Linked DNA regions of Homo sapiens. The protein of the gene in region 6 interacts with the protein of the main gene of each other region in a pairwise test. Each region holds a gene or a part of one and is shown on either strand. Other genes may lie near its edges. The genes, in order: IL36RN, GABPB1, THOC1, ASPH, FAM110A, AGR2 and ZNF410.

The links.
Region 1: the proteins of AGR2 (region 6) and IL36RN interact in binary tests that used the Homo sapiens proteins (3 or more experiments, as listed by UniProt).
Region 2: the proteins of AGR2 (region 6) and GABPB1 interact in binary tests that used the Homo sapiens proteins (3 or more experiments, as listed by UniProt).
Region 3: the proteins of AGR2 (region 6) and THOC1 interact in binary tests that used the Homo sapiens proteins (3 or more experiments, as listed by UniProt).
Region 4: the proteins of AGR2 (region 6) and ASPH interact in binary tests that used the Homo sapiens proteins (3 or more experiments, as listed by UniProt).
Region 5: the proteins of AGR2 (region 6) and FAM110A interact in binary tests that used the Homo sapiens proteins (3 or more experiments, as listed by UniProt).
Region 7: the proteins of AGR2 (region 6) and ZNF410 interact in binary tests that used the Homo sapiens proteins (3 or more experiments, as listed by UniProt).

Annotation. Positions count from the first base shown.
Region 1 is NC_000002.12:113,061,586-113,065,677, reverse strand, and holds the end of IL36RN (interleukin-36 receptor antagonist protein), read right to left. Parts: intron 3,555-4,092; coding exon 3,427-3,554; intron 3,226-3,426; coding exon 3,001-3,225; 3' UTR 934-3,000; downstream 1-933. UniProt on the Homo sapiens protein: Inhibits the activity of interleukin-36 (IL36A,IL36B and IL36G) by binding to receptor IL1RL2 and preventing its association with the coreceptor IL1RAP for signaling.
Region 2 is NC_000015.10:50,348,415-50,352,959, reverse strand, and holds part of GABPB1 (GA-binding protein subunit beta-1 isoform beta 2), read left to right. Parts: exon of another isoform or gene 1-4,024; intron 4,025-4,545.
Region 3 is NC_000018.10:257,488-262,032, forward strand, and holds part of THOC1 (THO complex subunit 1), read right to left. Parts: intron 3,634-4,545; exon of another isoform or gene 3,231-3,633; intron 2,818-3,230; coding exon 2,699-2,817; intron 2,244-2,698; coding exon 2,195-2,243; intron 1,789-2,194; coding exon 1,693-1,788; intron 1-1,692. UniProt on the Homo sapiens protein: Component of the THO subcomplex of the TREX complex which is thought to couple mRNA transcription, processing and nuclear export, and which specifically associates with spliced mRNA and not with unspliced pre-mRNA.
Region 4 is NC_000008.11:61,707,731-61,712,275, reverse strand, and holds part of ASPH (aspartyl/asparaginyl beta-hydroxylase), read left to right. Parts: intron 1-4,545.
Region 5 is NC_000020.11:835,957-840,501, reverse strand, and holds part of FAM110A (protein FAM110A), read right to left. Parts: intron 4,450-4,545; exon of another isoform or gene 487-4,449; intron 1-486.
Region 6 is NC_000007.14:16,794,754-16,799,298, reverse strand, and holds part of AGR2 (anterior gradient protein 2 homolog precursor), read left to right. Parts: intron 1-1,604; coding exon 1,605-1,668; intron 1,669-4,279; coding exon 4,280-4,363; intron 4,364-4,545. UniProt on the Homo sapiens protein: Required for MUC2 post-transcriptional synthesis and secretion. May play a role in the production of mucus by intestinal cells. Proto-oncogene that may play a role in cell migration, cell differentiation and cell growth. Promotes cell adhesion.
Region 7 is NC_000014.9:73,917,121-73,921,665, forward strand, and holds part of ZNF410 (zinc finger protein 410), read left to right. Parts: intron 1-3,859; coding exon 3,860-3,985; intron 3,986-4,545. UniProt on the Homo sapiens protein: Transcription factor that binds to the sequence motif 5'-CATCCCATAATA-3', and is specifically required to silence expression of fetal hemoglobin in adult erythroid cells.

The DNA.
Region 1 (4,092 bases), on a different chromosome or scaffold from region 6:
GGAAGCAACAAATTCAGGCTGGAGAAACCTTCAAGAATGAGGTGGAATTTAAGCTGCTCCCTTAGAGGTGGGCCTGTTTAGATGGGTGGAGGAGAAGGAGAGAATATTCCAGGGTGGAGAAATAGTTTCTACATTATATACTCATTGGGTTTCCATTATGTGCCAAGCATTATGCAAGGTGCTAAGAGACAAACTTATATGTCCCTAACCTTAAGGTCATCCCAGGGGCCACAGACTCCAAGTTAAGGTACTACAGTGCAGGGAGGTGCATACAAACATTGCCAGATCAGATAGCTGGGGGTGTCTCAACTCAGTAAAAGCTTCTTGGAGGAGGTGACATCTTAGCAGGGTATTGAAAGATGAGAGATTTATCTAGGCAGAGAGGATGGATGGAGGACCCAAAAGCAGAGGGAGCAGCACAAGACTGTGTCTGGGCCCATGGACAAAGAGAGTGTGAACAGGGTCTGAAACACAGCCTAGCATCCGGAGCTCATGTTCTTGGCAGCCCTGAGAGGCCTGGGGTAGGAGCTGTGCTGCCTGTTGCCTGAGGACTTCAGCTGAATCTGGGCTGGAGCTGTGAGGTCCATAGAGGCAGCCTTGTCTGTCCTGGCCACCTCCTTGCCAGTGCCTCAGTGGACTCTCAACCACCAAGCTGGTCCAACAGGTGAAGTGCAGGTGGAATACCTGGGGCTCAGATATGGGCTCCTCCTCTGGCTTCTGCTCCCATTCCCCAGGGTTTGGGTGGGGACACTGGAGTTCATTCCTGGCACATAGGACAAGAGGATCTCAATCTTGCAGAACCAGATGACTCAACAAATGCTGTATTATTAGCTTTTAAATAGAATATTTGGGTAAATGAAGGATAGTTGTTCATTGTGAGAAAGAAAATAAAAAATATTGGAGAAAATTGCAATAATAAAACAAATGCATTTGTTTCTCTTTCTCTGCATATTATTTATCTATTGCTGCATAACAAGTTAGACCAAAACTGAGCAACTTAAAACAACAAACATCGATTATCTCACAGAGTCTCTGCTTCTAGGTTCACTAATGTGGCTGTGGGCAGGAGACTTCATTTTTTACCACGTAAGTCTCTTTATAGGCCTGCTCATAGCATGGCAGCTAGCTTCCCCCAGAGCGAGTGAGCCAAGATAGATTGGGGGCGGTGGGTGGCAGAGAGAGAGGGCTCAAGTAGAAGCTGCAGTGTCTTTTATAACCTAATCTTGGAAGTGGCATGCCATCACTTCTGCCATATTCTATTGGTCACAAAGACAACTTTGGTACATTGTGGGAGGGGACACACACAGAATGTAAACACGAGGAGACAGGGATCATTTTAGCAGCTGTATTAGTTTCCTAGAGCTGCTGTAACCAATTATCCTTGGTGGCTTAAAACAGCCGAAATTTATTCTTTCTTCGTTCAGGAGGCTGGAAGTCTGAGATTAAGGTTTCAGCAGAGCCGTTATCCCTCTAAAGCCTCTAGGGAAGAATTCTTCTTTGCCTCTTCCAAGCTTCTGATGGTTGCCACAATCCTTGGTGTTTCTTAGCTTGTGGCTGCAAAACTCCGATCTCTGCCTTCATCTTTACATAGTCTTCCCCGCATCTCCTCTGTCTCTGTGTCCTCTCCTTTTCATACAAGGAAACCAGTCATATTGAATTTAGGTCTACCTTCATCCAGCATGACCTTGTCTTAACTAACTACATCTGCAGAGACCTTATCTCCAAATAAACTCACAGACTGAGATTCCAAGAAGGATGTGAATTTGAGGGGGACACAATTCAACCAGTACAGCAGCCTTCTTAGAGACTGGATCCAATGCCTTGGAATCCCAGGGGCTGTGATCCTTCTAGGAAAGAATTACCAGATGATTTTTGTTCTTTAAGTTCCTTACCCAGAGATTCCAGCCACACAAACTCAGCACAGCCTCCTCCTCAGTGGCTTTGCTGAGATCTGTTTCCTGATCACTACTACAACCAACCAGAGCAGCAGAGCTCGATTCAATTTGAATTTACTCTGGGGAAGTGGAGGCTGAGGACAATCAGAGATGATGTCTACTCTGCTTACCTCAAGATTAATTTCTTTTCTTATTTTTATACAAGGAATTCATCTTCATTGTAGAAAAATTAGGAAATACAGGTAAATTAACAGAATTAAAAGAAAAATCACCTATACTGCCACCACCCTGACATTGCTACAATTGAAGTAAACTCTTCCAGACTTTTTTCTATAAAGAAATATATAAATAGGTATCTTTTAATTAAAATAAATTGCAATATATGCCACTTTGTAAGTAGGTCTTCTCAATATGTCATGAGCACTTTTTCATGGGAATAGAGACCAGCATCTGGGATTTTGATTGTATCTTGGGTTTTTAAAAGAGGATCAGCATACCCTACTTATCTTTTATCTTCTGAGCTCGAGCCATTTCTTCTGACATCAGCACCTCCTCATGCCCACAACAAGATGATGAGGGAAGAGATAGGAAAGGTAGCATATGACAGTGGCAGGATTAAAGGGAAGGAGGTGGGGCTGGGCCAAGGGCCATAGATCCCTGACTCTATGACCACCTCCCTCTCCTGCATAGTGGTGAGTGACAGGTCTTCATGTGGAGAGCTACTGACCCTATAAGGCTCAACTGGGGATGGGTTGGCCTGCGGGGCTCAGGGTAACACTGGTCAGTTACCATTAAGCAGGAATGATTCCCACCACTCCCCCACCCCACCTCCACAGAAATCTTTTCATGTTATTCCCAGTTTACCCCACATGGTTTTTACAAGATTCCACAGCAGTAGCACCATCCAGTGGGGGAGGACCGTGGACTGAGCTCCAAATCTCAGAATTTATCCAAACTGGGAACCAGAAGACAAAGTGGTCAGGTGCCCACTAAGTCAGACGTGGGGGTCCTGAGAGCAGAGAGAGTGATTGTCCGCCATGGGTCTCCTCCACTCACCCCTCACCCGAGCTGGCTCTGCCCAGGGAGTTCTGGGGGGCACGTTGCCCTAGTCACACTGCTGGAAGTAGAAGTCTGTGATGGGGGCATTCCAGCCACCATTCTCGGGAAGCTGGGTGAGTCTGACAGGCTGATCGGCTTCAGGCACCGTGCACAGGAACCAGCCCGGGTAGGCAGCCGACTCGAAGCTGGAGGTGAGCCCCATGTCCCGCCGGTAGAAGGTGAAGCTCTTGGATTCCTTGGCACCAAGATAGAGCTCCATGATGTTCACTGGCTGCCGGCAGAGGAGGGGAGGTCAGGTGAGGGCAGAAGCAGGGGCAGAGGGAGGGCTGGGCAGGATCCTTAGGGAGGAGGCAAAGCTGCCATCAACAGAATCCTGCTAGGGTGTCCCACAGCACCAGGGCTGTGGGCTGCCCGGCTTCAGTAGGCTCAGCATCTGTGGCTGAGTCCCCAGTGAGGATGCCCCAAGTCTCACCTCTAGTGTTAGAGTCGGCTCCTGCCCCACCCCACATGACAGGCACTGGCTTCCACCCTGGACACCCAGGATGACGGGGGACAGGCTGGCATCCAGCCACCGATTGGGGACCACGCTGATCTCTTCACCTGTGGGAAAGAGGCCAGATGCAGGGCCCTGGATGCCTTTCCCTCCTTCTTCCCCTGTCCTGGGCTCTAGGGCACAGGACTGCTGTAAGACGGCCTGCCCCCAGGCTGGGCAGAAGGGAGGCTTCTCAGCAGCTGTCATGACATGGCTTCTCCTGTCCACTGGCTCAGAGTGGACATCAAGGCATGGAAGCACATTGTACCACCTCCACTCCACCCTCTAGTTCAGGGTCAAATCTTCAAGCCTCTACACCCCAAAATAGATTCAACCCCCTCCTTTAATGTCCCTTGGGTCTCAGGCCTTTTTCTGAACCCTGTCTTGATAAGCCCCCCTTTGGAATTGTTTGGACAACTTTCTACACCCTGTGATGTTGCTGAGAGCAAAAGAGGGTCTCATTCCTCTCTGTACATCCCCTCACCACCCACATACATCAGATACATACATACACAGATACATGCATGCACACATATACATATACACACACATGCTCATACCTACATACCTGCACTCACACATACATGGTTACACACAGATACATGC
Region 2 (4,545 bases), on a different chromosome or scaffold from region 6:
TCCTTAGAGTTCTTTGTCTCTCTGAATCATTCTGGGTTTTCTAGGTTGGGAGACAATTATACTTATTGGGAGACAATTATACTTAATTGATTAATGCATAAAAATTTAAGGCCGTATTTTAATGGCTTTGAAAGGAAGCTAAGTTTGTTTCCAGTTGTTTCTGTGAACTGTAGTCTGAATCTGTCAGTCTATAGTTCTCTACTGTTCCATCAACAGGAAGCATCTGGTCATTCTTCGTGTAATTGTTAGAAAATACCAGGTGTACTTTTAATGTTTGCTGTTCAAACGAAAATAGATTGGATCTTGGTTAAGTTCACTTGGTTTGGCCAGGCACAGTGGCTCACGCCTGCAGTCCCAGCACTTGGGGAGGTGGAGGCGGGCCGATCACCTGAGGTCAAGAGTTTGAGACCAGCCTGGCTAACGCGGTGAAACCCCATTTCTACTAAAAATACAAAAAATTAGCTGGGCGTGGTGGTGCGCGCTTGTAATCCCAGCTACTCGGGAGGCTGAGGCAGGAGAATCGCTTGAGCCAGAGAGGCAAAGGTTGCAATAAGCCAAGATAGCGCCATTGCATTCCAGCTTGGGCAACAGGAGCGAAACTCTGTCTCAAAAAAAAAAAAAAAAGTATGCTTGGTTTTAGTGTGTTTTTTCCCATAACATTGTGTCATTGTAATGGACCACATCTCCTGTACCATGAATTTTTTTTTACTTTTTTCTTTTGCCCCTCAGTACCAGAAATATTAACAGGTAACAGGTAAAGTGCACGTCATGAGGAATTCAGAAATTCAGAAATTACATGAAGTTTTGCATCATGAATTTATTTTTGAGGGTGCACGAGGCAGTTACCCAGTCTCTGTTTGCAAGTAGCCTGAGTTCAGATGAACTCACTGATGGCCTCCATCTCTTCTGACTTTGCAAACGTTGAAAAACAAACCCACACAAAATCTTGAAGTTGAGAGCAACTTAGTTTCCTTAGTGTCATCCCTCTGCTCCCCTCTCCTCCCCAACAACTAGTATGGTTTCCAGCTAGTAATCACAATGTTTCTATAGCTCTGATGTGCCTACATTGGGATAGCTACAATTAGTATTATAGTTTTCTGAAGATGTTTGTTCCATCATGCTTTCTAGAAGGTAAATCTAGCACTAGATGAGATCAGTATTAGGGCCTGTGTTTTTTCTCAGTGTTGACATCACAGTGCTCTATACAAAGAAGATGCTTTGGTGCAATCAGCTGTCAGTTCAGTTGGTGGGCTAGTGCACCTTTCTGTCTCCCTCCCTCCCTCCCTCCCTCCCTCCCTCTTTCCTCTCTCCTTCTCCCTCTGTCCCTCTCCCTCTCTCTCCTTCCCTCCCTGTTTTCCCCTTTGCACCTCTTCTTTCTTTGACAGGGTCTTGCTTTCTCTGTTACCCAGGCTTAGTGCAGTGGTGCGATTATACTTCACTGCAAGCTCCACCTTTCAGGCTCGAGCGATCCTGCCTCTGCCTCAGCCTCCTGAGTAGTTGGGACTACAGGTACCTGCCAACATGTCTGGCTAATTTTTTAATTTTTTGTAGAGACGAGATCTCACTGTGTTGCCCAGGCTGGTCTCAAACTTCTGGACTCAAGTGATCCTCCCACCTTGGCCTCCCAAGTGTTGGGATTATAGGCGTCAGCCAACACACCCATCTGTGAATAATTCTGAAGTTGGTAGAACAGCTTATTGACAGAGCAAGGTGTTAGCCCCACTTTACTGTGTACTAGTTATATTATATTTGGGGTATTGTGTTGGCTTTTTGGGTAGCATACTATCATAAGTGAGACCTTGTATTCATTCTCAGACTTTATCAGAATCATCTGGAGAGCTAATAAAAAGCCACACAGAGGCCCAAACTTAAGTAGGGTAGGAACGGACCTTAATTTTTCTCATTTCCAAGGTGGTAGACACCTAAGTGTCAAAATCACTTATCTGTAGAGCATAAACGAGGACCTTGATCATGAGAGAAATGGAAATGAGAAAAAGTTGAAAAAATGGGATGTTTGACCTAAAGAAGAGGAGCTTCTTTTAAGAAGTAACAGCCACTTTTAAGGATTTGGAGTTCTGTCATGCAGAAGGATCAGATTTGACTTGACCAGAAGGAACTAGGGTCAGTGGGTGGAAGTTTAAAAGAAGCAGATTTCAATTCTCTTTCAAGATAAATTTCCTCAAAATTGTGAAAATAGAATGAGTTGTTTTGGGTGGTAGGCTGTTCCTGTTCACTGACAAATTGGGGATTCTAGAGTAGAGGAATCGTACTGAAGGAGAATTTGAGCTAGGTGTCTTCAAGTTACCTATAAACTTTGAGGTTTTATTAAATATGCCGAGGTTTACAGGTGGAAGAACAAAAAGCTAATTGAGTGAAACAAACTGGTTAACTTGATAATAGTTTTTGCCTTCCTGGATAAAGAGAAATGAGTATTAAGTGAGAAGGCTATTTAATGAAGGGCTTTAAACCACACTGTAATTTGGTAGATTCAGCAGCTTTAAAAATTGGCATACCTTCTGACATGGAAATTCCCTTTAAAGAATTTTTTTTTTGATGTAGTAAAGATGTGTGTGAATATTTAATTGTGAGCATACTAGATGCAGTATTGTTGATTATAAAAGCTGTGTATTAATGCCTTTAAGCCCCACGGTAATCATATGAAGTGGGTAGTACTATTTCTGCTTTTCAGAAGAAAAAACAGGCATAGAGAAATGAGGTTGCTTGCTCAAGGTACCTGAGTTAGTTAAGTGTTAGGGCCAGGACTTGAATCCAACCAGTGTGACTCTAGAGCCAGTACTATTGATCATTATATGGTAAAATTGTAAACAACCTAAATGTTTCACAGTGATTGTTAGGGTCCATCCCTACAGTGGGGTACTGCCTTCTCAGCCATGAAAATGATGATAGAATAATATAAAGACATGAAAGGATGTCTTGGTATATGTAAGTGAGAAAAAATAAATTTAAAAACATGATTCCATTTTGGTAAAAAAACCCAAAAATATATTATGTCTGGAAGGATATGTGCCAAATTGTTAAATGGTTATTTCTGAGTGTAGTTTTACAGGTGATTGTTTTCTTTTTGCTTATCCAAATTTTCTAACTTCTACAATGAATATAAATTATCTATCATGTTGTAATTAAGATATTAAGATGTAACTTTTCAATAAAAAATTAAATGTGTTAGCATAAGCTGAGAAATTTGGGTTTTATACTCTGCATTTTAAGCAAGTTTGTAGAAATTGTACATGAGAATTTGTAAATGCATGTAGTGTTTTGTAATTTTTTGTTTGATTCCTTATTCTAGAAGTAATATCAATTGAGTAGAGAAACATATCACTCCTACCACCCTACCATAATCAATTATTTTGTTGTGTGTTGTTACTCTTATGTGTAATATTTTAAATATTCATCCCAGTGTCATCCCAGTTAGTCATACTCTAGCTGTGTGATTTTAGGCAGTTTACTTAATCTCTCCGTGGCTCAGTTTCCTTCTTTGTAAAATGTGGATTATTATAATACTTAGCTCATGATGATTGGAAAGATTAAATGTTATTTCATATAAAGTGAACAGAACAGTACCTGAAACATAACAGTTAATAGCTCAATAAATGTTAGCAATTATAGGATCACAGTCCACCATTCAAACTCTTAGGGTCTAATAGGTTATGGAATTAGGAATTTTTTTTTTATATGGGCAAGGTAGTAATGTGTAGCCTTCCAATAGAGTCCAGTGCAATATCCCCCTTCAAAAGTGTTACTGTTTCTGCAACAAAATGTATGAATGTTCGCACTAAATAGGATAAAGACTGTAAATAGCTTCATATCAGTTTGGGTAAGGTTTACCACAAGATGAGTTATTTTGGGTTTCAGAAGTTTTTTGGATTTTTGGAATTGAAGATAAGGAACCTATAAAATATTAATTTTGAGTCCTATTTTATAATATTAAAACATCTTTTCATGGTATTTTATAGTTTTATAGTGCATGGTAAATTAAAGTCAATTAAAATGAAATAATGGAAAATGTCCACCTCCATCTCCTTTGATTTAAAAAATACTCAGCATACTGATACTATGATTTAAAAAAAATTTTTTTTTTGAGATGGAGTCTCACTCTGTCGCCAAGCTGGAATGCAGTGGCACGATCTTAGCTCAGTGCAATCTGCGCCTCCTGGGTTCAAGCGATTCTTCTGCCTCAGCCTCCCGAGTAGCTGGGACTACAGGTGCGCGCCACGACGCCCAGCTAATTTTTGCATTTTTAGTAGAAACGTGGTTTCACCATGTTGGTCAGGATGGTCTTGATCTCTTGACCTTGTGATCTGCCTGCCTCGGCCTCCCAAAGTGCAGCAATTACAGGTGTGAGCCACTGTGCCCAGCCAAAAAGTTTCAAAGTTTAAAAAAAAAAAAATGGCCGGGCTCAGTGTCTCATGCCTGTAATCCCAGCACTTTGGGAGGCCGAGGCGGGCGGATCACTTGAGGTCAAGAATTCGAGACCAGCCTGGCCAACATGGTGAAACGCCGTCCCTACTAAAAATACAAAAATTA
Region 3 (4,545 bases), on a different chromosome or scaffold from region 6:
GTAAAATATATACTGACAGATACAGAAACAAATACAGATGAGTATGGTTAGTATACACATATGTCTCTCCTAGCTCTGGTCTCTGAGAGGGCCTAGAAGTAGTGATACTCCAGTAGCAATGAGCACATCTTCTCAAACGTAACAGCCAATGATAACCAGACACACAAAGAGGCAAGATACCATGAGTGAGAAACAGTCAAAACAGACAGGAGAAACAGACCCACCAAGACTTATTTAAGGTATTGGCATTACCAGATACAGACAATAAAGTAACAATGTTTACCAAGTTTAGAAAACTAAAAAAAACAATTCTTAAGAAATTATTCAGAATCAGGTAGAGAGAGACAAACAGATGAAAAAATATATAAGGAGTAAAAAACAGAGGATACAGTGAGAAGGTATAATGGATGTTTAATTGAAGTTCCAGAAAAAGAAAAAGATAAAGAGGCATACACAATATTTGAAGAGATAATGGCTAAATTTTTACAAACTAGATGGAAGAATCTAATCCATACATTCAAGATGTCCACAATCCTAAGCAGGACAAATAAAAAGAAATTTACACAGAGATACATCATAGTAAAACTAAAAGAAAACCAAAGGAGAAAAAAAATCTTAAGCGCAGAGAAAAAAATGTAGATTATCTTCAAGAAGTGAGACTGACATCTGACTTGTCAATAGAAAAATGGGAAACAGAAGACAAAGTAAAGATTATTTCCCGTGAGATGAAATCCTGTATCTAGTGCCAATCTAGAATCTTATACCTATTGGGAGGAGGTCAAAATACCAATATTAACAGGAGTTTGGAAGAAAGAAAGGAAAAAAAATAAAGGAGAAGTAACGATTTTTAGGCAAAACACAGACCTGCACTGAAGAAAAGTCTAAAAGGGAAAATGATCACAGACAGAAAGCCAGAAATACAAGAAGTGGTAAATCTATATTAACCCTGACCACATAAAATAAGTATGAAAGAAAACAGCACAGACATAAGATGACAAAAAGAAAGCACATAAACCACTGCTAACATATGCTATAGGTCTTTCTACATGCAGGCACTAATGTAAGCTCTTCACATGTTTTAATTCATTTAATCCTCAGAACATATAAAGTAGGTGGTACATTAGCCCAATATTAAGGAAGGGAGGACTGAAGCAAGGAGATATTAAAATCTCGCATATTTGAACATACTGGGGAGGCGGAAGGCTCTGGAGGACAAGCAATGTCCCATTTCAGGAGCTAGATAGTGGTTATACAGTATTTGTTTCATTATTATTCGCTTTATGTACTTTTCTATATGAGCGTTATATTTCACAATAAAAATTTGTTAAAAAAAGAGAAATGAAAGGAAGTCTATATAGCTAAATAGTTGTGACTGAGAGAAAATCCAAACACAAAAATAGGCATACATTATGAAATACGGATATGATGGTTCATATCTACATGTTTCAGTGTGATTCAACTTTACATTAATAAGCTTTGAACTTAAAAGAATCCATGACTTTGTTTCAGGATTACCTGTATTATATACTAGGACTGCTATACATTTATAAGTAAAAGAAAATAAAGTGACAATTTCTATGATGTCTTTCAACTTTTTAGAACCATTTTTCTCATTATCATGACAGATTTTAATCTATTAAAAACTGGAAAAGATTTTCCTGCAGAAAACTCATTTAATGCATAAAAGCTTACCTGATTTCTCAGACAGAGGGAAAAGCCTGGCCAAAAAGAGCTGAATCCGTCCACAGAAGACTGTATTCTGGGATTTAGACAATCTTCTTAGGAGATCTAACAATATATGAAAATGAACGTTACACAGAAAAGATAATTCTATGTTTATTACAACCACACCTAAAAGTTTCTAAACCAGTGTGTCAAGAGTATTTTCCTAAAGCAGTAGTTCTTAAATTGGGGGCCGAAACCACTGCCACAAAAAAGTACTATAAATTAGGAACAAAACAAGTTCAACATGACATGAAAAAGACAAACTTTACTACGTTTCTGACTTTAAGCTTATGCCCAGAACAAAAACAGTTTAAAGTGAATAATGAGTTCTAACAAATCAGATTGTTAGTTAAAAATGCAGATACCTAATCTATCTTTAAAATGTTATCACTGGTATTTAATTCAACCATGTGTTTTTCTGGGCATATTTACACTTAAAAAGCAATCATTTTATCACTCAATTACTTACCATTGCACATACGTAGTAAGTAATTTTTCCCAGCAGAATAGAATGTATTCTGAAATTAAGACGGAAATTATCACTCTTCTTCAGAACTTGTTACACATTCTTCAATAATAAGTTGCCAGAGTGAAATATTAAAGAACACTAACATGCACTGAGAATCTACTATGCCACTTTCACTTTTTTTAAGCAAATAACATTTTCAATGAAATAAAAATATTTTCAGATATAAGAAAACATGATACTAAGTAACTGTTTTAAACATGTGAAAGTGTGAATTTTCAAGTTAATTTTTATTACACAAATTAAATCAAATTTTGTATTTCAAGTTTTTCTCCACACATGGTTTTTATTTGGCTCTCCCGAGAGAGCAGTATATAATTTTTTCATAGGCAGAAACTTGTTGGCATTCAGCAATACTACAAATAAATTTAAAAAAAAAAATCTACCCTCAGAATTCTGGATCTATAGAAAGATAAAGTTAGCAGGAAAAGAAACTAAGGCACTTACTGATTTCCAAGTAGCAACATTTTTTTCCACAAAAGTGAATATTGTGTCACACTGATCCAAAGGAAGACAATCCAAAACATCTCCCAACAATACAAAAGGTGTAGATGCGGTACAAATACCTTCAAGTGGAGCACAAGCCAATTTAAAAGTTTAAAAAACTGTAGAGTAGAATAGCCTATGAAAAATAATTCTGAAGAATATCTTAAAAGGTACACTTTGTTACTCATAACAAGGTTTTAAAAGGACAAGAAGTGGAAGCAACCTAAAAGTCCCCAAATAGGACATACTTAAGTAATTTTTGATATGTGCACTCAGTAATGATGACAATAATTCTTGACAAGATCTAGAGCATTTACTATATGTCAGGCACACTAAGTACTTTACATATACTAACACATTTAATCCTTACAATCCTATGAGGTAGAGCATATCATTATTTGCATTTTATAGAATGGGAAAACTGAGACACAGAGAGGTTAAATAACTTCACCAAGATCATAGAGCCAGTAAGTGGTAGAGCTGGGATACGAACCCAGGCAGTCTGGCTCCACAGTCTGTTTTCTTCACCACTAAGCTATTCAAAAGAATATAATGCAGCCAATTAAAAATGATGGTTATAACGACTATAATAACTTGGAAAAATGCTTATGATATAATGCTAAGTGAAAAAAGGCAGGATTCAAAATTGTATGTACATATGGTTATGACAATAAAAAAAATTCTTAAAAGACTATAGAAACTAAAACCATTATACCAGATGAATGGTAGCTTTTAAAAGTAGAGGAATTAAGAGTACTGTTTTCCCTTCTTATTTCTAAATGTTTTGTAATGTTGCTAAATTGTCTTTGTGATTTGAAAAGATTATCTTCAAAAAATAACAAGGTTTGATATTAACTATGATTCAACATTTAAAATAACAGTATTGTTTCAGGGGAAAGAATGGAAAAGTAGAAAGTTACTGTTTAAAGAACAACAAAATTAAGATTTTTCTTAAGAAAAGGTCTACGTAGTCTATCTAGACTACTTAGAATACTTTTATATCCCTACTCATTCTTCCTTCTATTTTAAGGCAATGAGTACTTACTAACACTCATAAGTGTTTAAGAAAAGTAGTCACTTAGGCATGGTATATGGAGGAAAAATATCTAGGGTGATCTAAGCCCAAAACAGTGCATTAATATACTATGTCCAGAAAAAAGGAAGAAATATTTCCAGCTGTACTCTGCACTAGTAAGATCATATCTGGAATGCGACGTGAGGGATATTGCCTAGAAGCAGTGGGTGAAATAAAACAGCAGATTTCAACTCAATACAAGGGAACACACCAATAACCACATTTGTCTAACAGGACTCAAACAGTGAGCTCCACTAATGAGCATGATTCAGCAGAGGCTGAATGACCACCCACCAGGGATGTTACAGCAGAGAAGCAGTCTAGGCCAGAGATGAGACTGGACTAGGTGACCTCTAAAGTCCCTAACAATACTTAGATTCAATGATATTATATACCCTGCACATCCAAGAGATTTGAGAAGCATATTTTCTGCCCTTAGTTGCAGTATAGCCTGGAATAAGTTAACTCACATTTAATAATTATAGAACTTTTTCTAGATTCTACTGCCAAAATTCTGAGTCAGTAGAACTAAGCAAGGTTTGGGAATCTCATCTAAAAATAGATTCACTGGTGGTTCTGATGAGCCAGCAAGTCTGGGAACCATTGGGTTATAGTGTGATTCCCCCAAGAGCTTTCACAACCTGTGTCCCAGCTTCCACACCAATCTCTCTCCTTACCCTTACCTGGGCCACAGACATCCCTTTCTAGTTCCCACTCCCCAGTTCCCAAACAC
Region 4 (4,545 bases), on a different chromosome or scaffold from region 6:
TTCTTTTAATGCTGTTTACCTGGTCATTAAAGTACGGACGTTGTGCGAACCATTTCCTTCTACTGGGAAAATCAAAGACTTTTTAGCAGTGTCATACTGTGAGACCCATTTAGTTTCCTGCTCAAATCATACAGATGAGGAAATTAATGCCCAGAGAAGTTGCCGAGTTCATTGAAGGTTGTTTAGTTCATGGAAACTCAACTAATTACTGGAAGAACCGAGACTAAGAACCCAGGTTTTGTTATTCATTTTGCCATGCTTGAATTTTAGGTTCTCTAGTATGTAATTGGAGTTGAACTAGATTATCAAGTTTTCTTCTGGCTGTCTCCATGAGTACTACATTTAATTATTGGAGAAAACTATGCTTTTGTCCTATCACCAATTACATTTCCCTTGACAAAAATTCTATTTGAAACACTATTTGAAATTTTAGTTTGAGAAGAAGTATATGTGTTCAAATAGTACGTTTTTTGATATGTCTTACATTGAGAGTCAGAAAATGACGGCATTGGTCACATTAAACATTATTATTTCTTAAGTTGTTGTGTAAACGTATGGGGAAAAAAGAACCCAGTCATTTGAAACATGCATTTTAGGGAAAAGGTGATTTCTTTTTTTTTTCCTGGCCAAACTTTATCTTGGTGGTTTTTTTGCTGAAAAGTGATGTTTGGAAGCTGGAATTTGGGGAATTTATATCACAGATTTTTAAAGCAAGTGTCTGCTTTTTATTTTCTTCAGCTTAAGCTGAAAAATGATAAAATGGTTTTCTACAGAGTTCAATTTTACTTTTTTTTCAGTTTTACTCTTTATAATATAAAAGAAACATGAATAAATTAGACTTCCTACCTTTATTTTGCATATAGAACTGGACTTGCATGGCCAGTTGGGCCCAGGGGAAGCCTTTTTCAAATTTATTGATTTGAAAATAGTTTGACAAAGAAGGATCATGATGTCCTTTTGGGCTTATTTTGTAGACACTCGTATGTGTAATGTTTTCTGTTTGTTTGTTTAGTTTTTCCCTTTTGAGTATCACCCCTTAACTCCCTGTATCTCCTAGCAGCTTTCCATCTCCCTGTTTATTTTGTCTGGGTGTCCTGCTACTACATTAACTTTTGCCACTAGGTGTCACTGTAGAATATATCCCCCTTTTAGTTTGAAGCTTGGGGTTATGTAACAGCAGGTTTTAATTATTATTTAATCCGTCTGTATATACTCAAAACTATTGATAGATAAGCACTTAAAAACTCTTAGCTACTTTTTAACTCTCTCAAGGTGTCTCAGTAGATTGAGCAGCCTTTTTGTTTAGGCTTAATTAGAATGAAATATATTCCTGTACTGCCTGTAAAACATTAACAGCTTCATTTGATGAGTATTTGTCATTTAGAAACACACTTCTGAGTTTAGTTTAGCTTCCTTTTTCTTTCTACTTTGAGTGTCTCTTAGATTACTAAGTAACTGAGGGATTCAATACACTGCTGATTGCATTGTGGAGCCCTTGAATGAAGAGGCCCTAGCAAAATTTTCTTTCTTTAGCCAAAGACCATCAGAGCCAATTGCTTAATCCTCCATTACTCATTCTAAGATGAAAACATAGGAGGACCATAATTCTTCCACTGCAAGAACCGTCAGCTATTTTGTGTTCAGTTCAACAGCATTTTGTCCATCCTGACCAAATCATATGAAACCAAGCACTAAATAATGTTCTGAGGGAGTTTATGAACACATTTTCCAGAGACCAGTTAACCTCTGGTGGTCTGTGGAAGTGAAAGTTCTATATTTTGGACTATATTTTAGTCTTGCTTTAAAATAATCTGTCTCATAGAGATTATTAGAAAATGAATGTATGACATTTTCATTTTCAGCCAGTTATCAACAGAGGAACTTGGATAAAGGCTCATAGGGTCTATCCATCTTGTTGTTAGTTAATATCAGATACTTAGCCCCTGAGCTCTCTGGTTCCAATAGAAAAACCCTTTTCTCCAGAAAGCTAGTGCAGTTTGGGAGAAGGAATATGATGACCTGGATCATATCTGTGTAAGAATCAGAACCAAGAATCGCTAAAAATCTCTGTTCCCAGCCTCCTTAAATGTAAAGAATTATTATCTACTTTCTTTTCAGAGTTTTGATATCACTAATGCTGATTTCATATGGCTTTGTGTTTCTCAGTTGTTTCCGTTAAAGTACGTCTAATAGTAGGGGTGAGTGCAAAACTTTGGAGACTATAAAAGTGTAGATGTCATCAGGCCATTGCATGCTTTGACTTTTTTGATGATTTATTCTTATTTATTTATTTATTTTCATGTTCCATAGCATCTTTGTGTTAAGTAAAATGTATATTCTTGAGATAGAGTTTATACTATGCTTTGAGGACTGCTCGATACATTTCTCTCAGCTTCTGGAGGTGTAAGTATCCATTTGCACATCAACTTTCAAGTTGGTGATTTGCCCTTAATGGCTCAGAAATCTGTAACATTATTTTATCTTACCCAGGCTCAGATATATTTAGTCTTTTGAGGTAACTCCAGCCACTGTTTTAATATCATGAAAATATGCAGCTTAGTTTGTGGCTTGGATACTTCCATATCACCTCTAAATGGCTTGACTTCATTCTGTACCAAGGTACAAAAATGTTTTTCAAATGAACTTCTCTTTAATAAACCCTGTATGTACATATAACCTATGTACACCCCACCTAAACCTCCGGGGAAAAGCCTCAGCCATCTATCGGGAAATGTGGAGGTGCAAGGGCTGCTTGCTTCATTATCTGCTGCCAGTGTCTGCTCTGCACTGCACATGTGGGTGTGATGAGTTTCTCTGGTTCGGTCCTGCAGCTCTGGCCATTTTTATTAGAGGACTAAGGATTCAGGATGTTCTTTTCTTCCCTGTGTACCACTGTGGGAGTATAGTCTGGAGGCCAGTGCTTTAACTTTTTTTTAATTATACTTTCTTCTGGTACTGCTGGGAGCCAAGATGGTATTTTCTTGTTAGTCATTATTTTTAAAATTTTAGTATTTTATTCCCCTGATGTGAGGGATGCTTCAGGCTTTTGTCCTGCATTTGATCTTTGTTTTTCAGGGATGTGTCTTGGTTACCTTTGGCTGATGTGGTTATCTTTTAACGGCAAATCACTGAATGTAATTCAGTTCCTATCAAATTGGCCACAGCTGAGGACAAATTTGGTTTAGATAACCTATTAGACTCAAAGGAAATGTTGAGCTCCCTTGGTGAATAACTCTTTTTAAAAAGAAAATCATCTTTTGAAGGATCTGGGCTATTCGGCCCCCTGTGAGATTCAGGTCACTTGCCTAGTCATGTGACTGTCATCATCTGCCGTAGATACTATGTGTGCTCCAGAGCGGAGAGCATTGGTGAATTGACTTGGTTGAGGGGTGGGGGGCTGGGGGGTGGGAGTGGTTGCTGTCCAGTTATAGTCAGGTTTCCAAGGGCAGCCACTATCTCTGTACTTGGAGAAATGCCAGCACTTCTCTCCTACATGTGTGCCCACACGTTGAACCCAGTGACTCATCCTGTACTTAAGACCCCAAGGATCAGTCTTAAATTTAAAGTAGGAGAATATCCTTTGATAATTTTATTTCACAACCAGCATTGTTGTAACTGCCTTTTCTCATATTTTACATAGGTTTGACAGCCATTTCTACCATTCCATAGTGCAGAGTCACTATTATTTTGTTGTTCTATCCTGTCTGTAACTTCTTTTTCTTATTTATTATTCTTCTAATATACAGTTTTTGTCCCTATCTTTCACAGGCTGCTTTCAATTTCAATTTTCTTGGTATACTGGAAAGACTCTTTTGGTCTTAGTTTCACTTGTAAATTTTATTTAGGACACTTAATTTTTTGACTTACATAAACCTCAAAATCTGTGTTGTAAATATTTGTTGAAAGAATATCTAGCATTTAACTACTTTTCCATTCTTTGAATCAAGTCAATTTGTATAAGATGCTTGTCACTGAGTTTTTGTAAGTTGTTTCATGGATTTGCTTTTTGGCAGAGAGCTAGTTCTCTAACCTTTATAATAAAAATATTTCTGTGTATTGCTCTTTAAAATTGTATGTATTTGAAATAGTACATATTTAAGCCTATAAATAATTGTAGAGAGTAATGCAGTGGATGCCCATGTACTGACCATATAGGCGAAGAAATGAAACATTATCAGATTCCTAGATTTTCCTCTCCTGTGGTATTCCTTCCTAACCATTGTTAAACATTTTATGGTAGTCATTATCATAAATACAGGTATATATGCACAAAATAATATATAACATGTAGCACATACACATTATGTATCCACACATGTAAACTGTATCTATTATTAAATCAATGTATTTGAAAACTGCCCAGGAAGTATATCTATATCCCTATGTGTAGAAATATACCTATACACACACACACATATATGTATATATACTGTATAGCACGTATTAAAAGTTTTGTGAACAGGCTTCTACTTGGCATACTATTTTGACAGCATTTGTTTGAAATTCCTCCAAACTCCAGTTCTTTATTTTCACATATGTAGTTCT
Region 5 (4,545 bases), on a different chromosome or scaffold from region 6:
GCAGCCCTGCAGGAAGGAATTCCCAGAGGGAGGTGACTGTCACCTCTTCCACCCCAAGTCCTATAACTCACTGCAGGTAGGAACATTTGATAGGCCATTTTTTCATGGGAATCCTGAGGCCCAGAGAAGGAGCTGTCCCCCAGGCCTCAGCCCCAGCCCTCTGCCACACTCAGGCTGAAGAGGCTCCTGTTCCATGTCTGTGCCTGTGGGAGCTGGGCCAGGACTAGGGTACAGGGCATGAGGAGACCGGCAGTGATGCACATCAGCTTTCCTTCCCCCTCAGCACTGCAGCCTCCTCCAGTCCCTGACTTTACAGGGGACGGGGCAACAAGTCCTTCATCCTCCAAATGGCCTGCTGAGCCCTGCCTAGCCCTCCACGGAGGCAGAAATGGGGGATGGGGAGGGAAGGCTCCTTCAGGCGCTAATAGTAGTAACAGCAAAGCAACAATAATGATTTTCGTAATAGCAAAGAAAAGAACAGTCCTTCCTTTCCAGCCCCAGCCCCGGACCCTACAGCTGCCAAGATGCTGATGCCTAAGAAGAACCGGATTGCCATTCATGAACTCCTTTTTAAGGAGGGAGTCATGGTGGCCAAGAAGGATGTCCACATGCCTAAGCACCCGGAGCTGGCAGACAAGAATGTGCCCAACCTTCACGTCATGAAGGCCATGCAGTCTCTCAAGTCCCGGGGCTGCGTGAAGGAACAGTTTGCCTGGAGACATTTCTACTGGTACCTTACCAATGAGGGTAGCCAGTATCTCCGTGATTACCTTCATCTGCCCCCAGAGATTGTTCCTGCCACCCTACATCTGCCCCCGGAGATTGTTCCTGCCACCCTACACCGCAGCCGTCCAGAGACTGGCAGGCCTCGGCCTAAAGGTCTGGAGGGTAAGCGACCTGCAAGACTCACAAGACGGGAAGCTGACAGAGATACCTACAGACGGTGTTCTGTGCCCCCTGGTGCTGACAAGAAAGCCGAGGCTGGGGCTGGGTCAGCAACCGAATTCCAGTTTAGAGGCAGATGTGGTCGTGGACGTGGTCAGCCACCTCAATAAAATTGGAGAGGATTATTTCACATTGAATAAACTTACAGCCAAAAAAGAAAAGAACAAATCTCATCTGAGCACTTTCTTTGTACCAGACACTGTTCTAAGCTCTACAAAATGTTAACTAATTTAATCCTCACACCTACCCTGTGAGGGCTACTATTATTATGCCCATTTTCAGATGAGAAAACTGAGGCTCCAAGAGGTAAGGCCACGTGCCCAAAATTACACAGCTGATTAATGGTAGAGCCAGGATTGGAACCCAGGCTCACATCTGGGGAGGGGAGGTGGAAGAGACGGTGTTTTCAGTGTTGGGCTTTGGCCACTCACCAGATGTGCCCCCCAAGGAAGTCCCAAGGAATCTACTGCCTCGTCGGCTGGACCCCAGAGGGAGAAACCACCTTAGGAAGCACTCCCTGGTCATGGTTCTGAGTCTCGGTTTCCTCTGCTGTAAAATGGGGGCAATAACGGCAATGTTTTCCCAGCAGAAATAAAGTCTCATTACTGCTGTGTTTAAACCCTCCTGTGGCTCCCTTACAATAAAATCCAAGCTCCCTGCAGTGAGCTGAGATTGAGCCACTGCACTCCAGCCTGGACAACAGAGCAAGACTCTGTCTCAAAAAAAAAAAAAAAAAAAATCCAAGCTCCCCACTTGGCCCTCAGGCCTTCCAGGACTCAGTCCTTGTCCAAATCTCCCATCTTATCTCCAACCTCTTTCCTGCTCTGGCCACAAAGCCCTCCCTGCTGTTCCTGAACATAAGGTCTTTCCTGCCTCAGGGCTTTTGCACCAGCTGTTCTCTGTCTGGAACCTCTTCCCTCACCCCCTTCAGATCTCATTTCAAATGTCATCTCCTCCAAGAGACCCCCTCAGCAATTTCACCCATTTTATTCCCTTCCGAGCACTCATTACATCCTGTCATTTTAGATACTCTTATCTAGGATAGGAAATATAACTCGTTTCCTGTCTCTCCCACTGGACCATGAGCTCCATCACACCCTTCCAATTTTCTTCCTTCAGGGACCAAACACGAGGAAATACCGTTGAACAACCGGCTGTTCTGGACCCAGCCCACCTCAAAGGCCAAGGCCACTCATCAAGAGGTATATATTAAATGTATAAAGCTTTTTCTTATATCAGTAAGAAAGAGAGAAGAAAGAAAGAGAGGAAGAAAGAAAGGAGAGAAAGTTAAACATATCTGTCAAGAATAACACAAAAGTGATGTTGTGTCCTTCTTAGTACATGGTATCAGAAGGCTTCTTTTTTCTTTTTTTAGAAATGAGGTCTCACTGTGTTGCCCAGGTTGGAGTGCACTCCATAGCTCACTGCAGCCTCAAATAGATGGGCTGAAGCAATCCTGCCACCTCAGCCTCCTGAGTGGCTGGGACTATAGGTACATTACCACACCCACTCATAACAACAGTTTGTCTTAATCTTAGTGATCAGCCAATTCCTTGGTTAAGGCAGTATCTGCCAAATTTCTCCACTGTACAGTTATTATTTTCCCTTTGTAATTAATAAATATCTTGTGAGAAGAGAAAAAAAAAAAAGGACAGGGTCCCTAAGCACCAAGCCTCCTCCCCAAACCCTCACCGTGCTCCTGGCCTTTCCAGACCTGTCCTACTCTTCCTCCAACTTCAAGTCACCCCCATTCAAGCTGGGCTCTGACCACTTCTACCCAAGTCCTGTTCTTTCTCCAAAGCCACCATATACAAACCTCTGCACACACTGGTTCTGCTGCCTGCAGTGGTCTTCACTACTCCATCCCCCTGGCCATATCTGTAAGGTATAGCATGGACTCCAGAACCCATTCAAATCCTAGCTCCACCAATGATTAGCTATGAGACCTTGGATAAAATACTCAACTTCTCCATATCTCAGTTTCCCTAACTGCAAAACAGGACTCACAACAGTGCCTCCCTCTCTGCATGAGGTCCATGCATGACAAATGTCACCAAAGTGCAGGCTATGATAACTATTCAACCAAATAGATCATCCAGTGCCCAGCTCCTGAGGGAGGGCTTCATCAGCCCAGAAAGCTGATCCACTATTCTCAGAGGTTACAAATCTAAGAGAAGCACAGGTAATGGTTAAGAATGCAGAGTCATGACTGGGTGCAGTGGCTCAAGCCTGTAATCCCAGCACTTTGGAGGCTGAGGCAGGTGGTTCACAAGGTCAGGAGTTCAAGACCAGACTGGCCAAGATGATGAAACCCCGTCTCTACTAAAAATATAAAAATTAGCCCAGCATGGTGGCGGGGGCCTATAATCCCAGCTACTCAGGAGGCTGAAGCAGGAGAATCATTTGAACCCGGGACACAGAGGTTGCAGTGAGCCGAGATGGCGCCACTGCACTCCAGCCTGGGCGACAGAGCGAAACTCTTGTCTCAAAAAAAAAAAAAAAAAAAAAAAACAATGCAGAGTCACTTGAACAGACATTTCTCCAAAGATAACAAATGGCCAACAGGCACAGGAAAAGATGCTCAACACCATTAGTCATTAGGGAAATGTAAATTAAAACCACAATGAGACACCACATCACACCCCTGAAGATGGCCATTACCAAAAAAAAAATACAAACAGAAAATAACAAGTGTTGGTGAAGATGTTGAGAAATTAGCACTTTGTGCACTGCTGATGGACACATAAAATGGTGCAGTCACTGTGAAACACAGTAAAGTAGTTCCTCAAAAAATTAAACAGAATTGCCATAGGATCACCCAGCAATTCCACTTCTGAGTGTATACCCAAAACAATTAAAAACAGGAACTCAAACAGATATTTGTACATTCATGCTCAAAGCAGCATTAGTCACAACAGCCAAAAGCAATCCAAGTGTCCATCAAGGAATGAATGGATAAACAGAATGTGGCATATACATAGAATATTAGAATAGATTATTCCGCCATAAAAAAGAAAATTCTAACACATACAACAACATGGGTGAAACTTAAAGGCATTATGCTAAGTGAAATAAGCCAGACACAACAAGACAAATACTGTTATGATTCCATTTATAATACCTAGAGGTACCCAAAGTAGTCAAATTCACTCAAACAGAAAGTAGAATGGTGATTGCCAGGCACTGGGGGGAGAGGCAATGGGGAATGTACTTAATGCCACTGAACTGTATACTTAAAAGTGGTTACAATGGTAAATTTTATTTTATATACATTTTAATTCATTCACTGCCCCACCCCACCCCCCCCCCCAAAAAATGTAAAATTTAGAGCCAGACTCTCTGGGTTCAAACTCCACCTCTAGGTTATCTTATGCAAATTATTAAACCTCTCTTGTGCTCAGTTTCCCCTCTGCAAGATGGAAATAAGAACAGCAGTAATTACCTTATATCACAGAGTTGAGGGAATTAAATGAGTTCATACTTGTAAAGTACTTAGAACATAGTAAATGCTCAAGAGGTGTTAGTGATTTTTATTCTTTGGTGAGGGGGTGGGAGGTGTGGTTTCCAAAGGTTATAATTTTCATGACATTCTACACCCAA
Region 6 (4,545 bases):
TCTGTCTCGGCAAGTTCTTTTTACTGTATACAAATGTTTCATTTTCCTTCTAAAAGCAAGCCAACAAAAAAATGACTCTACCTAATCATATGTCCTTTTGAGCCCTCCGGCCCTTCCTCTTCACAGGTTGGCTTCCTTAAAGACCACTTCGCACCAGTAGTTCTTCCTTGCCTCTCTTCCATGGGCTCTTCCTCTTCCTCTTCCTACTCCTTAATGTGAGTGACATGATGAATCTCTACTTGACCCTTTTCTCTTTCCATATTTTGTATTCAGTGAACAACTCCATCTACAACTGCCTTTAATCAATTCCGACACACTAATAATTCCTACATCTTACCCAAACATGAAACAACTTCCAAATTGTCTATCCAACCATATTCCAGATATCTCATAATCAGCTTAAACTCAGTATGTTCCTCACTGCACATTAATCATCTTGGTTTGCGCTTTTCCAATAGCTCTTCTTTCTCTATTCCCTATTTTACTGAAAGTGGTACTGTGCTAGATTGGACTCTCCTACTTACCTACAGCATGCAATAAGCCCTGTGCTTCTAAATTCCAAGTATTCCTGCTACTAGTCACTTCTCTATAAACTCAGGACCACTATTTTAGTAAGCCTCTTTCACTTTCCCTAGCTTACTGTAATACTGCTAAATGGCTCCTGGTCTACAAGATAAACTCTGTCTAATCCCACATGGCTGTCAGAGAAGTTGCTTTACAGACCAAACTGGGGTCACAGTGCCTCTTCTAACATCCCTCCAGTGGTTCTTAACTATTTCTGAACAAAGGAAAACACTATGGCATGGTGTGCAAAGTCATTCCTAAGCCGGCCCCTGAAGCAGCTCTAGCACCTTCTTTCGCCACTGCCCTCGTGCATCCCCCCAACTCAGTCCTTCCCCAGCACTTGGCCATAGGAGAAAATGCTCCACCTGTCCTCTCCATACTCTTCCCCCTGCATGAAGTGTCTTTCTTTTCCACCTAACTGACTCCTGTTCATTTGTAAAGATTCCTCCTTATCCACTTCAGAAAGTCCTAGTCGGGGTGGAATCTGCATTCTGGGCTAAATGTCTTGCTCAAGGCAATCACCAAACCTGCATATCCTACACCGTAACATTTCACCCACTGCATCCTCAATATTCATTTTCCTACCTGTATCTCTCAATAGAGTGTGCATTCATTAAAGATAAGCACCATGCCTTGCTAAATACAGTTCTAAATAAAAATTGATAAATGGATAAATGAATACTCAAGAAAATCCCGTACTTGTCTCCGTAATTTCTCTAGAAATGACATCTGCTTTTTTCCTTAATAGCCTCTTATTTCATCCCAGATGTCTTCCCCAAACACAGTAACTCCTTCCAAATTCTCCCTTAATTTTTTTGCTCTTTATCACATCCATTCAGCACTTTATCTCATGTTCTGCTCTATCTTATTTATTATTTCATGCTTGTAACTTGTCTCCTCATCTGTACAATAAACTCTGTGTGGAAGAGTTATGATATCTTGAGATGCCTGGCCGGAAATGGACAGATTCTTGTATTAACAAGTTTGAAAACGACTGAAAAGTCAAAGTAAACTAAAAGATGCTTTTCTTTTTATTTTAGTATGAAACAACTGACAAACACCTTTCTCCTGATGGCCAGTATGTCCCCAGGATTATGTTTGTTGGTAAGCGGAAGTGACAGTGAGATAACTCGGAAACACATACTAGTGCTGCCATCCTCCTTCTCTCCTCCCCACTGTCCCTTGCCACGTTGCCATGGCCAATGTCATCACTAAGCTCTAGCAAGGAGCATGACATTCCTTTAAGTTCCGCAACATATTTTCTTTAGAAAATGTGAGCTTTTACCTATTTCCACACAACACTTTCTTTTCTCACATGCTAATTGTAACTTTTCATCTTCTGCTATAATACTTCTGAGAACAAAGCACCCTATTCACTATTTAAACATATTGATAAATTTCCTGAATACGAGAGGCCTGCAAATATTTATTTTTTAATCCAGCAAACTTTCACTTTGTGTGTTAGATTTTTCTGACATTTTTTATCATTATTTTTAAGAAAGTTAGGAATAAGGCTGGGTGGCTCACGCCTGTAATCCTAGCACTTTGGGAGGCCAAGGCCGGCAGATCACTTGAGGTCAGGAGCTCCAAACCAGCCTGGCCAACAAGGTGAAACCCCATCTCTACTAAAAAATACAAAAAAAAAATTAGCCAGGCGTGGTTGCAGGAGCCTGTAATCCCAGCTACCTGGGAGGCTGAGGCACAAGAATTGCTTGAACCCAAGAGGCAGAGGTTGCAGTGAGCCGAGATGGCACCACTGCACTCCAGCCTGGGCAACAGAGCGAGATTCTGTCTCAAAAAAAAAAAAGGAATATGAGGTGGGAAAAAGAAATGAAAGGAGCCACATGCTCCTTCCTGCCACTGGTACTTTTCATATGCTTTCCCCACTTCCTTCTCTGTCCCCCAATTTCACATCATTAACTCCCCAATCATCATTATTCATTGACCGAGTCAAATCCCTACTATGTGCTCTTGTAGTCATACTTTCCTCAGGTATAATTTTGCAGTTTGGGGGTGGTTATGTAATAAATATTTCCCACATTGGACTATAAGCCCCTATGGCAGGGACTGTACCTATTTCTGCTCACCATGATATTCCCAACGTGACCCTGCAGTAGGCTCTCCATCAATATGTGTTTAATTATTGAATGAATGTACTGAGTTTGGCTTTGTTCAAAGTCATACTGATTTAAGGACAATCCATAATGAAATCCATCACTTACAACAATTCATGCTAATCATATGATTCACCTGTGTAATTCATTAAAAGTTTACACTGAATGTACAAAGCAGGGAAAAGAAAAACAAGAAATAGAAAAAAAGGAAGAAGGCTGAACTAAAGCACTAATTTTATAGGTTTAGTTTTGTCAGAATTTAGGACATTTGGAATCCTAACATTAAAAGGGAATTTATAGATGTCTGTTCATACCTTGTACAGGAATTCTTTGTACAGCATCCCTGTGGAAGGGCATTTTAACCCACATTCAATTCCTTCAGTCCTAAGAACCAGCTCCAAGGCAGCTTGCTCTTCTAGCTCCGTAGTAGCCACCCTGACTACATGTTTGAATCACCTGGAGGATTTTAAAGATCAAGTTGCCCAGGCCACACCTCAAACCAATTAAATCAGAATCTCTGGGGGTGGGAGGCAGGCATCCATAGTGTTTACAGCTCTCCAGATGATTCCAATGTGCAGCCAGGTGAGCTGCTAGTTGGGTATTTAAAAAGCCCTTCTTAGGTTAATTTCTTACAAAGATTAGACCGTGTCTTTGTATCCTCTGCACCAAACAGAAGTATAGTTGGTCTTAAATCTGGTGAATAAATGTACATCTGCTTCTTGTAATTTATGTGTCTGGCCTTAGTCCAACATTCTGAAATGACAGATTGCCCACTCCAGTACCAGCGACAGACTTTGCAAACATGCAGATGGTTCTCACATGTCTTCCTTGTCTCATTTTCAGGGCACGTGTCCTAGGTTCTTTCGATTACGTCTCTCAAGGCAAGGTTTCCAGATCTCTCTGTATCCTCACGCTTCCCTTTTGGATGCACCTTAATTTTAAAATACCTCTTTTTCTCATTAATTAGATCACTTCAAGTTAAATACAAAACATGGCAAGATGGATTTAAATTTAGAGGGATATAAGTATACATAAGAGAAGACCAATCTCTACTTTTAAAAATGCAGTTAATTAACAATAAAGTAAAATATAGTGAAGGTACTATATGCTTATTTGAACTTTGCTGTTGTTAAGGACTTGCATTCCTCTATTAACTTTTTTTAAAAAACTCGTTTTGAAAACTAGCATTGGATGTGGGTTTCCAATGATCTAGAAACATGTAAACTACAACATAATCGTTTCAAGAATTTAAAATAATTTTGCAGTAGAGAATGTTAATGTTTTCACCAAAAAAAAAAAAAACACCATGTCACCCCTAAATATATATTATTCTGTTTTCAGGTTGCCATAGATAGAACAGAAGGGTTCATAACCTTTTCCACAAATAGCACTGCACAGCTGTTGATGTTTCCAGCCCTGCATTTGCTACTAACTGCCAGGGGCTGGGTAGTAGAGTGGATGGATCAGAGCTCCTGTGAGTGCAGACACACTCCATTCCCTCACAGGACATGAATACATGAACTTCAGCTCCCCGGGGCAATAAATACAGGTTGTTTGAAAACAAACCATTCCATTCCCTTTTGCTTCATTTATCTTTGCAGACCCATCTCTGACAGTTAGAGCCGATATCACTGGAAGATATTCAAATCGTCTCTATGCTTACGAACCTGCAGATACAGCTCTGTGTAAGTGTGACCTTCAATTCGGATGTTGCCCAAGAGTTGAACACCTCTATTGCTGTAGTGATGGGACTAGAGGCTGCATGGTGAGGTGAGAGAGAGCTAGGCTTAGGGACGCCTCGGACTCAGTTTGACCCTAACTAGCCTTGCATCTTCAGGCAAATCACACTCTTTCCATCTCAGGTTTG
Region 7 (4,545 bases), on a different chromosome or scaffold from region 6:
GATTTTTTTGTACTTTATTTTTTTCTTACATCGAAAATCTTGGTTCATAACATTAATACAATATTGTTTCAAAATGATAATACCAATATTATCAATTTGTCTACAGAATGAAGTTTAAGACTTTTGGAGCTGTGGTTCTTAGAATAATACTATGTTTAAATACCCTTTAAATCATTGTTTTAATATATCACCAGCTTGATATGTAGATTTGCTTCAGTTTCTTTTTCAAAAAGCCTTGATTATAGGTGTGTCTCTTTACCATGTTCCCTCCCTCCTTCTCTTATAGGTATAAACACTTTTTATTTCCTATTTGGTTTACTTTTCCAGTGGTTCTTTTTGCATATACAAGCAAATGCAGGTTATTTAAGTTGAGATATAGTTCACATACCATAAGATTCATCTCAAAAAAGTGTGCAGTCCGGCCGGGCATGGTGACTCATGCCTGTAATCCCAGCATTTTGGGAGGCCGAGGTGGGTGGATCACCTGAGGTCAGGAGTTCAAAACCAGCCTGGCCAACATGGTGAAACCCCATCTCTACTAAAAATACAAAAATTAGCTGGGTGTGGTGGCATGTGCCTGTAATCCCAACTACTCAGGAGGCTGAGGTGCAAGAATCACTTGAACCTGGGAGGGGGAGGTTGCAGTGAACCGAGATCATGCCACTGCACTCCAGCCTGGGTGACAGAGTGAGACTCCATCTAAAATATAAAAAGAAGAAAAGGGTGCAACTAAGTGATTTTTAGTAGTAATATAATTATCCCTTGTTATCTGTGGTGTATAGGTTCCAGGACCCCACAGATACCAAAATCCACAAATACTCAAGTCTCTTACATAAAATGGCATGGTATTTGCATATAACCTACACATATCCTCCCATATGCTTTAAATCATCTCTAGATTACTGATAGTACCTAATACAACGTAAATGCTATGTGAATAGTTATGCTATATTGGTTATTTGTATTTTTTATTGCTATATTGTTATTTTTTATTTATTTATTTTTTTAGATGGAGTCTCGCTCTGTTGCCCAGGCTGGAGTGCAGTGGTCCACGATCTTGGCTCAATGAAACTTCCACCTCCTGGGTTCAAGTGATGCTCCTGCCTCAGCCTCCCAAGTAGCTGAGATTACAGGCATGTGCCTGGCTAATTTTTATATTTTTAGTAGAGACAGGGTTTCACCATGTTGGCCAGGTCTTGGAACTCCTGACCTCAAGTGATCTACCTGCCTTGGCCTCCCAAAGTACTAGGATTACAGGCATGAGCCACTGCGCCTGGCCTGTTATTTTTTATTTTTATTTTTTCTGAATATTTTTTATCTGCTTGGTTGAATCAATGGATGTGGATGGCCAACTATATATTCATAGTTTTACAGTTTTCTCTACTGTCCGACTCCACAACATTTCATCATCCCAAAAAGGATCCCCATATCCAGGAGATGATTAAAAAAAGAAAAAGAAGTCCCATTATTAGTATCATTGACCATGTCTCTCTTTCTCCAGCCCCTGGCAACCATTAATCTGCTTTCTGTGTCTGGATTTGCCTGTTCTGGACATTTCATATGGCCTTTTTTTTTTTTTTTTTTTTTTTTTTTTCCCCTAAACGGAGTCTTGCTGTCTCCCAGGCTGGAGTGCAGTGGCGTGATGTCGGCTCACTGCAAGCTCTGCCTCCTCGGTTCACGCCATTCTTCTGCCTCAGCGTACCGAGTAGCTGGGACTACAGGCGCCCGCCACCACGCCCGGCTACCTTTTTGTATTTTTAGTAGAGATGGGGTTTCACCGTGTTAGCCAGGATGGTCTTGATCTCCTGACCTCGTGATCCTCCCGCCTCAGCCTCCCAAAGTGCCTGGATTACAGGAGTAAGCCACCGTGCCCGGCCTTTTTTTTTTTTTTTTTTTTTTTTTTTTTTGACAGAGTCTCACTCTGGCTCAGGCTAGAGTGCAGTGGCATGATCTTGGCTCACTGCAACTTCCACCTCCTGGGTTCAAGCAATTCTCCTGCCTCAACCTCCCAAGCAGCTGGGATTATATGCGCCCGCCACCACGCCTAGCTAATTTTTGTAGAGATGCGGTTTCACTATGTTGGCCGGGCTGGTCTTGATCTCCTGACCTCAAGTAATCTGCCCGCCTCGGCCTCCCAAAGTGCTGGGATTACATGTGTGAACCACTGCACCTGGCTAAAATAAATTTATTTTAGATTCAGGGGGTACATGTGCAGGTTTGTTACAAGGGTATATTCCAAGATGCTGAAGTTTGGGCTACTAATGACCCTGTTGACCAAGCAGTGAACATAGTACCTGATAGGTAGTTTTTCAGCCCTTGCCCCGTAGCCGCTTTTGGAATCCCCAGTGTTTATTGTTCCCATCTTTGTGTCCATAAGTACCCAGTGTTTAGCTCCCGCTTATAAGTGAGAACATGGTGTTTGATTTTCTGTTTCTGTGTTAATTTGCTTAAGATAATGGCCTCCAGCTGCATCCATGTTGCTGCAGAGGACATGATTTTGTTCTTTTTTATGGCTGCATAGTATTTCATGGTGTGTATGTGCCACATTTTCTGTATCGTATTTACCATTGATGGGCACCTGGGTTGATTCCATGTCTTTGCTGTTGTGAATAGTGCTGCATTGAACATGTGAGGGCAAGTGTCTTTTTGGTAGAGCAGTTTATTTTCCTTTGGGTAGATAGCCAGTAATGGGATTGCTGGTTCAAATGGTGATTCAGTTTTTAGTTCTAAGCTTTGTAATATTCCACCCTGTTTCTATTGTATAGGTTTTTTTTTTTTTTTTTTTTTTTTTGCTATGCAGGACTACTGCAGTATCTATAGCTTTTTAGTCAGTCTCTGTGATGAATATTTACGTTGTTTCCAGTATTTAGCCATTTAAAATAATGTTGCCGTGATGAATAACCTTGTGCACAGAGTATTTCACATTTTGCTGCTGTAATTTTGGGACATATTCCTAGAAGTGGGATTCCTAGGTCAAAGGGCAAGTGCATCTACAATTTTTCTAGATCTGGTCAGATTCCCCCAAAGAGGTTTTTGTATTTTGCATTCCCAGCAAAATACAATCAGCAATGATGATTGCTGTACCATGTGTTTGTCAATTGTGAATTTGTTCCTAGCATTTAGAAATTGGGAGATTCTACTTAAAAATCCTTATTTCCAGTGTCTTAAAAAAAAATCAGAGAATCTGCCTTAATCTACCCATGGCAACAGTTGGCTAGAGCTGAATAACAGCTGCCCCTTTTCTAGGTACTCTCTAGGTTACTGCAGCCCCCACTTGGCCATTTTACTTACTTTTGCTACCTATCAGTCTCCTATAGACATGAGTTTTTGACCCCTGCTCTAAGTATGGTTTTCTGGGTAGGTAGAATGGAGACGGAGAGTTTGGGACTTGAAGACATAGAGGACAATTTAGATTATTATGTTGTAAGAGCCACCAGTGTGAATGTTGATGACCCTAAAGAGGGTGGCAGGGAATATGACAAGGGGATATTAGGAACACAGGATTGAAATCCTTGAGGAAAGCACATGTCCTAGAGGTCCATGGAAGACTAACTGAAAAAGAAGGCATATTTTTTGTGGTTGCCATGGTCCTATACCAAAGAGGTTTTGTGAAGGCAGCATTACAGAAGGTCTGGAAAGGACCAGCAGCTGGGAGCAGGGAGTGTGCTAAAGCCCTCCTGGTGTACTCTTCCTGCCTTCCCCCATATACTGAAGTTTGAGAGGCTGGGAAGGTGCGGAATGGGAAAAGGAGCAGCTGCTTATGTTCAGTTTAACATTCTCTGGGTTTCTCCATCTAGGTCTTGAGTTCATTCTCTTCCTGTCCTTTTGGCTTCCTTGTTTAACCTGGTCCCTGTTTCAGGAGAGAAGCCTCATCAGTGCCAAGTCTGTGGGAAGACCTTCTCTCAGAGTGGAAGCAGGAATGTGCATATGAGAAAGCATCACCTGCAGCTGGGAGCAGCTGGGAGTCAAGAGCAGGAGCAAACTGGTGAGGAGGGTGGGCATAGTGGAACGCTGTACTACTTCTAGGGTTCCAAGAGCCAAATCACTGTCCTGCCTGCTTATCTGGAAATTTTCTGATTCTGTTTTGGGTAGATAGACCTGGTCTCATTTGATGGGCTGATGGTTTCCAAACATAGCTATACAGTAGAATCATCTGCAACCTTTTAAAATTTATATACTTTTTGTTGCTTGTCCGCCCACCAATAAAACAAAGCAATCTGATAAATGAGATAATTTGCAAGATCCTAGAATCTGTAGTTTTAAAAGTTTCCCTAGTGAGTTTGATGGTAACTAGTGCTGATCCATGAACAAGCATTTGAGTAACACAGTGATAAAAGATTTCCACATGGGAAGAGTTTAAGCTTTTTAATTTTTTTAGATGGAGTCTTGCTTTGTCACCCAGGCTGGAGTGCAGTGGCGCCATCTCGACTCACTGCAACCTCTGCCTCCTGGGTTCAAGCAGTTTTCCTGCCTCAGCCTCTTGAGTAGCTGGGATTATAGGCAGGTGCCACCACACCTGGCTGATTTTTATATTTTTGTAGAGAC